Homo sapiens: one gene and its partner. The protein of the gene in region 2 interacts with the protein of the main gene of each other region in a biochemical or structural test. Each region holds a gene or a part of one and is shown on either strand. Other genes may lie near its edges. The genes, in order: MMS19 and THRB.

Region 1 (3,827 bases), on a different chromosome or scaffold from region 2:
CAGGAAAGCTAGAAGTTTATCCTCTAGCTATCTAGTCATCTTTTGGTATATACATGAGAGACTGGCTCCAGGACCTCCTGAGGATACTAAAATCTGTGGATGCTCAAGACCCTTATATAAAATGGTAAGAGTATTTGCATACAAACTATGGACACTCTCCTGTATACTTTAAATCATCTCTAGATTACTCATAATACTTAATACAATCTAAGTGCTACGCAAATAGTTGTTACATTGTATTGTTTAGTGAATAATGACAGGAAAAAAGTCTATACATGTTTGGTACAGTTGCTATTTTTTCCCCCAAATACTTTTGACCTGCAGTTGCTTGAATCAAGGATGCAGAACACACAGATATGGAGGGCTAACTGTACTGTGAAAGTGCAAAATAATGCATGTATAACGTTATTCAATACAGCATTATTCGTAACAGTAAATGACTGCAAACAACACATGCCCATCAATAAGAAACCAGTTAAATGAATTATAGTACATCCATACAATGGAATTCTCTGTAGCTACTTTTATTTATTTTTTAATCTTTTTTATTTTTATTTTTTGAGACAGCATCCTGCTCTGTTGCCCAGGCTGGATTGTATTTTTAGTAGAGATGGGGCTTTTGCCATGTTGCCTATGGCTGGTCTCGAACTCCTGAGCTCAAGTGATCCGCCTGCCTTGGCCTCCCAAAGTGCTGAGATTACAGACATGAGCCAACACACCGGGCCTGTAGCTACTTTTAAAAAGACAAATGAAGAAAGACTGAAGCTACATATATACTGATAATGAGTCAAGATCTAAAATAACAGTGTGTATAAACAGTGTATATAATATGTGCGTAGCATTGTTTTTAAAGGGAGGGGGGATTGTTTTTATTTGCATTTATTTACATCTCTGGAAGATATAAAAGGAACTAATAACATTTGTTGCCTTCAGGGAGGGAAAATGCATAGTTAAGGGTTGAGAGGTAGACTATTGTTTTAAAAGAAATATTTCATTTTGGAATAATTTTACATTTATAGCAAAGTTGCAATGACAGTGCGGAGTTCCCGTATAGCCATCACTCGGTTTCTCTTAATGTTAACGTCTTACATGGCACACATCTGTGAAACTATGTACGAGTGTCAAAACTAAGAGATTAGGTTAGCACTGATACACACTATTAACTAAACTCTAGGCTTTATTCAGATTTCAATAGTTTCTCCACTAATGCCAAATTTCTGTTCCAGGATCCAATTAAGAATACCAAATTGCAGTTAGTCATCTTGAATTCTTAGTCTCTCCTGGTCTGTGAAAGTTTCTTAGTCTTTCCTTGTTTTTCATGACCTTGATAGTTTTAAAGAAGTACTTTATAGAAGGTTCCCCAATTTGCATTTGTTTGATGTTTCCCTCATGTTTAGACTGGGGTTATGGGTTTTAAAAAAGAATATCACAGAGGTGAAGTACCCTTCTCAACATATCATATCAGGGATATAAGATAGTAACATGGCTTCTCCATCACTGGCAATGTTAATGTTTATCACTTGGTTAAGGTATGTCTGCCAGGTCTCTGCACTATAGTTACTACTTTTCTCTTTCTGGTACTCTTTTATTTGTAAGGTATTCATTAAGTCCAGCTCACATTCAGTGGGGAGGGGAAGATTAAACTCCACCTCCTGGAGGGAGGAGTATCTACCTATATTATTTGGATTTTTTTTTTGAGGCAGGGTCTAGCTCTGTGCAGTAGTACAATCATGGCTCACTGCAGCCTCGACTTCCCAGGCTCAAGTGATCCTCTCACCTCAGCCTCCCGAGTAGCTGGGACTACAGGCATGCACCACCATGCCCGCCTAATTTTTGTATTTTTTTGTAGGGACAGGGTTTTGCCATGTTGCCCAGGCTGGTCTCAAATTCCTGGGCTCAAGTGATCCACCCACCTTGACCTCTCAAAGTGCTGGGACTACAGATGTGAGCCACTGCACCTGGCCTTTAAATGCAATTTTAGCAGCACAATAGTAACTCACATATATTGAAGAGAAGCATCTTAGAATGTATTTTCAAGGGAGAAACAGGGTAAAAGGCTAACAATCTTCATAAGGCTTTGGTTCACATTGAACACTTATAGCTAAATAAGGTGTGACAACCAGAGAATTACTTCCAGCAGCCTGTTCTGGGTTCCTAATCCACCTACCTCTAAATGCAGAACCTTAACTAGTCAGCTTGTGCCAATGCTGGAAAAAGTGAAAGAGAGGTCTGAAGAAATCCTAAACTTCCAGTTCTCCTAAAGTCTGTGGTCTCACAGCAACAGTTATGAGCTGACCTGGGCAGAGGCTCACTCTAGCACCACAGTAAGAAGTCGTCCAATGAGACTGAGGAAAATGAGAGCTCTAGTTAGGACTTATAGCTCGTGACTGGCACCAATTTAGACATCAGGCACTCTTAGCCCACTTGTGCCAGGATGTGGAAGGCCCAGCTGCTGCCCCAGCTCCTGAGAAAGAGCCAAGGGAAAAAATGAGCAGACTGTAAGGGTGGGGGAAGGGGTAGCAGCCAGACTAACAGGCCAAACAAACCAAGTTGGGTTCTATACCCAATTCCTTAATGGCAACACTTACATGAACTGAAACACCTATTTCTGGGTTACGAACCACAAAAGGGCATTGCAACATTTGGGAAGGTAGAAAAGGGTACTTTCTTGGAACAGCCTGGCTATAGTACAGAAAACTCTGCTGAAACAACCCATCTAAAAACTAATTTCAATAATGGGCACAGAAGGAGTTAATAATTGTACAGATGAAGCCATAGGGGACTAACAACTGTTAATAGCAAAGGATATCAATGAACTGAATCATTTTTCTTCAGCAATACCATCAAAACCCTCTGTGGATGTCAGGCTAGGGTCTATATTTGGAACGAAGGCTCTAAGACAAGAAGTGCCAAATAGGGCCCATTCAGTACCTTCTATTTTTTCATTTTTTTAAAAAAATTGAGGTAAAGGCCGGGCGTGGTGGCTCACGCCTATAATCCCAGCACTCTGGGAGGACGAGGTGGGTGGATCATGAGGTCAGGAGATCGAGACCAGTCTGGCCAATATGGTGAAACCCCATCTCTACCAAAAATTAAAAAATTAGCTGGGTGTAGTGGCATGCGCCTGTAGTCCCAGCTACTCAGGAGACTGAGGCAGAAGAATTGCTTGAACCTGGGAGGCAGAGGTTGCAGTGAGCCGAAATCACGCCTGGGCGATAGAGCGAGACTCCGTCTCAAAGAAAAAAAAAGAAAAATGCTTCTTTGGCATTCTGCATACATTAATATGAAAATGGCTGCTTTATAATTACAAATAAATAGCCATTTGCATGTGGTTCCTTGAATCCCAGTATGTGGGTGAACTCTCCTGGCAAAGCCCTTTAGTCTTCATATAGCTTTCACAAAATTCTTGAATTAATGCAGCACAAACATAAAAGTGACTATAAGGCCGGGCACGGTGGCTCATGCCAGTAATCCTAGTACTCTGGGAGGCCGAGGTGGGTGGATCACCTCAGGTCAGGAGTTTGAGACCAGTCTGGCCAACGTGGCAAAAACCTGTCTCTACTAACACAAAAACTAGCCGGGTGTGGTAGCGCATGCCTGTAATCCTAGCTACTCCGAAGGCTGAGGCAGGAGAATCACCTGAACCTGGGAGGCAGAGTTTGCAATGAGCTGAGATCATGCCATTGCACTCCAGCCTGGGCTACAGAGTGAAACTCAATCTAAAAAAAAAAAAAAAAAAAAGTATAAAAGTAGAAAAAATTAGAGAAAAATGAGGCCGGGCGCGGTGGTTCACGCCTGTAATCCCAGCACTTTGGGAGGCCGAGGCG
Region 2 (3,827 bases):
ACACAGCTAGTAAGTGACAGATCTGGGACTCGAACAGAAGTTTTTCTGATTAGAAAGCCTGAGCTCTTAGAATCCCTCACAAGCAAGTAAAGGGCACTCAAAATTTATTTCCATACAGTCTAGATTAACACTGAGTTTTTAAACCTCATAGACACTAGTATCTTAAACTTCTCAATAGAACACTGAAATAGATAATCAATAATAAGTTTGTCATAGTGGCATATCTAAGTATTTGGCTGTAAGTCAATCATATTCACATATCCCTATCAGGCATATTGTTGGCAAGGGCTAAAGGCCTTTAAGAGATAAAGATAAAGAAAATACTCAGCCAGAGGTGGGGATTAACCCAGGATTTCCAGCCTAACACTCTAACATAACCCTCTTCCTTTTTAAAGATTCTCCATTCCTTCTTCTTTAATGGGCAAACCAGAACATTTCACAGATTTTTTTTTCTCAGTGAAAGAACTCTATTTCTCACATAAAATGTGAGTCATGATTACTTCTTTCATCAGGAAAAATCCTCACTGTATTTTCTTTTTTCTTTCTTCATTTTTTATCTTTCTTTTTCTTTTTAATTTTTAACTAATAGTTGGAATCTCTCACTGATGTGCAAAAAATTTATGCCAGTAGAATCATTAATACTGATGCCTGGCAAAAGGGAGGCCACACATTCTGAATGACATGATTCTTATTTTTATGATTAGATTAATTAAAGTGACTGGTGTAAATCCCTCGCACAGTGTGGGGAGAAGAGACCCCAAGGGCTAATCTCGCCACCATATGCTGTAGCACTTTGAAAACTGGGTAGGACGACTTCAGCTCGGAATGTCTTTATTGCTAAAAATATAACAAACAACCAACTGCAGGATGACTCATGCAATAGCACTCAACTTTGCATTCTTCAGAAATTTCTGAACACGATGTTTTCTGCCAGCGCCCCATCTCCAAAAATGTCCATAAAATAAATTCCTGTCTTTGCTCTTGAAAAAATATTAGGACTAGTCCCTGAGGCTCTACCCCATGTGAACACTGTGTATAGAATGATACCTTATCAAGGTAAATGGACCAGACCTCTCATTTGTAATCTCTGTCTCAAACAGAGTGTTGCTAACAACTAGGCCTGCAAATGTGATAGGGATAATTTAACTGCATTTCCTCCTCCATCATCCATACTTTGACAGTTAGGAGGTGGTATGACAGGGTAGGATGGAACCCACCCAGCAATGGCTCCCACCTCCCTTTCAGGGCAAGCCTGGATGTGGGGAGTGAGGGGTGTATGCGAAAGTAAGGTATTCCCTTCTCTGTCTTCTTGGGTTCCTGCCTTCTTTTCTGCCCAGTCGATCTCCTTGAACCAAACTGTTTCCTAATCAACATTCCTTGAATATGAAGCAAGTGAAGATCTACTTACAATCTGTTGCCATGCCAACATAGATGCATTTCTTAAAGCGACATTCCTGGCACTGATTTCGCGTGACTTTGTCTATGACACATTTTCCTTCATATTTACAGGAATAGGATGGATGGAGATTTTTCTGAATGGTTCTTCTAAAGAAACCCTATATGAAAAACAAAGACCCAAGACAACAGTTTCATATTTTCTTGAAATCAGTGATTCTGGAATTTTGTGTCCATATAACTATGAGATGAATCGTTTTGGACCTTAACCTGTTTCTAGGCCTCTAGCTCCACATATTCAAATATAAGACAGTTGGCCCAGAAGGATCTAGAGAGTTCTAAATCTGAGCTGATGATGCCATAGGACTACAGAGTCAACACCTTTTTTTTTGGTCTTTATTCAAGGAAAAGAGGCTAGTAGGAACATCTAGCGCTTGTTTTTATTTTTTCTAAATATTGAATATATAAGTAAATTATACTGTTCTATTTCATATACTGACATAATTGTGTTGCTAAATTAAGCTATGAGGAGTTTTGCTACTTTATACTGAGTAATAAGAGAGCTCCAAGACCAAGAAGAAAGTGAAAAAAATGAAAAGACATGGATACTTGCAATACTTTATTAATTAAAAATCTAATAATTTAGTAATTAAACAGATGTACTAGCTGGCTTCCTGGATTTAGTTTAATACTTGTTTTTGAATCTTGAGACAGCCATGATCAGCTCACTTAGCCTTTCAAACAATAGGACTCAGGGAGTAGAACGCTCCAGGTTTTCTACCAAGTTTTTCCCCATAGCTCATTGCATTGAGGTTTTCCTTTTATAACACTCTTTCTTTGGTATCTGTAGACATACACCTACAGGTTCAATGATTCTTCCTTTCTTAAGGCATGAGAGAGCACCTCTGTAGCATCTGGGGACACTGTTTAGTTCTAGGTTTGGGTGACTTAGGTAATATTCTCAAGAATGTGCAATACTAGAATTTTTCTGGACGTGATCCTCAAGTTGAGGCAACTGTCATCTGTATTGTAGAAGTTAATAACAGCAGTGAGCACTTATTGTGAGGGCACATTGCTAAGTGCTGTAGAAACATTCAATATCCTTCTATCTTCCCTACAATCATGTAAAGGAGGTGCTCTAAATATTTCCATGGTAGGGATTAAAAAAGTAAACCTCAGACAGGTTAAATCGCTTGCCCAAATCACATGGTAAGTACATGTGGGAACTTCAGGTAGGATGGAAACCACCCAGCAATGACCCCCACCTCCCTTGCAACCCAGGAGCGGCACTCCACATCTTACTTGCTTAACTGCTTATATGATGTATAATGAAGTAAATTTTACTGTATTACTTGAATGTTTTAGATCAACAGATTATAAACAGTCCTGCCCCAGCCACTTAAAAAGTTCATTTTAACTGTTGGTAGGATAACAAGGCAAAATGAGTGTTTTAAAATGTAAGAAATTAAAAAAAATTTTTTTTGAGACAGAGTCTCGCTCTGTCACCTAGGCTGGGGTGCAGTGGTGCGATCTTGGCTCACTACAACCTCCACCTCCAGGGTGCAAGTGATTCTCATATCTTAGCATCCAGAGTAGCTGGGATTACAGGCGTGTGCTACCACACCTGGCTAATTTTTGTATTTTTAGTAGAGACGGGGTTTTGCCATGTTGGCCAGGCTGGTCTCGAACTCCTGGCCTTCAGTGATCCGTCCTCCTTGGCCTCCCAAAGTGCTGGGATTATAGGCGTGAGCCACCACGCCTGGCTAATTTTTGTATTTTTAGTAGAGATGCGTTTTTGCCATATTGGCCAGGCTGGTCTCCAACACCTGGCCTCAAGTGATCCGTCTGCCTCCGCCTCCCAAAGTGCTGGGATTACAGGCATGAGCCACTGTTCCTGGTGGCAAAACAAGTTTTGATGGATGTCTTCTGCTAAGGCCTAAAGGGGTCCTCTAACTTTGCTAGATAAATGGTGGGAAATATCAGTTGATCTAGATTCAGCCCAAATTTTTATGATCCCGGTTAATGTTCTTTGGCTTTGATTATATACGTATACCCTATTGCATATTCCTCCTTCAGACACAAAAGCTCTTTCTTATTATGAAAATGCCCGAGGTAGGATTTTATATTGGGCAAAGCAGAATAAAATAGAAAAACATCAGGAATAACTGAGACTAACAGACTTGATTTTGGGGCGTATATGCAAATCCCTTATCATTTCCATTGTTCAAGTTCTAACAGAAAACTGTCAATATTATATTTGGGTTCTGTGTTCCTAAGCACTTGAGTCCATTAATTTCAGTGATGTTCATACACTGTTACAAGATTCACTCATTCACACGCAGGGCAGTTGTTGGAGATGTTGGCAATGATTTCCTGGGTGTGCAGGGTGGGCAAATCTTGCCAAAGCATGAATGTCAGAGCATGCCATGAGA

What was found.
Region 1: the proteins of THRB (region 2) and MMS19 form a complex in vitro, tested with the Homo sapiens proteins (one study listed by BioGRID).

The regions. Positions count from the first base shown.
Region 1 is NC_000010.11:97,488,416-97,492,242, forward strand, and holds part of MMS19 (MMS19 nucleotide excision repair protein homolog), read right to left. Parts: intron 1-3,827. UniProt on the Homo sapiens protein: Key component of the cytosolic iron-sulfur protein assembly (CIA) complex, a multiprotein complex that mediates the incorporation of iron-sulfur cluster into apoproteins specifically involved in DNA metabolism and genomic integrity.
Region 2 is NC_000003.12:24,145,267-24,149,093, forward strand, and holds part of THRB (thyroid hormone receptor beta), read right to left. Parts: intron 1,557-3,827; coding exon 1,409-1,556; intron 1-1,408.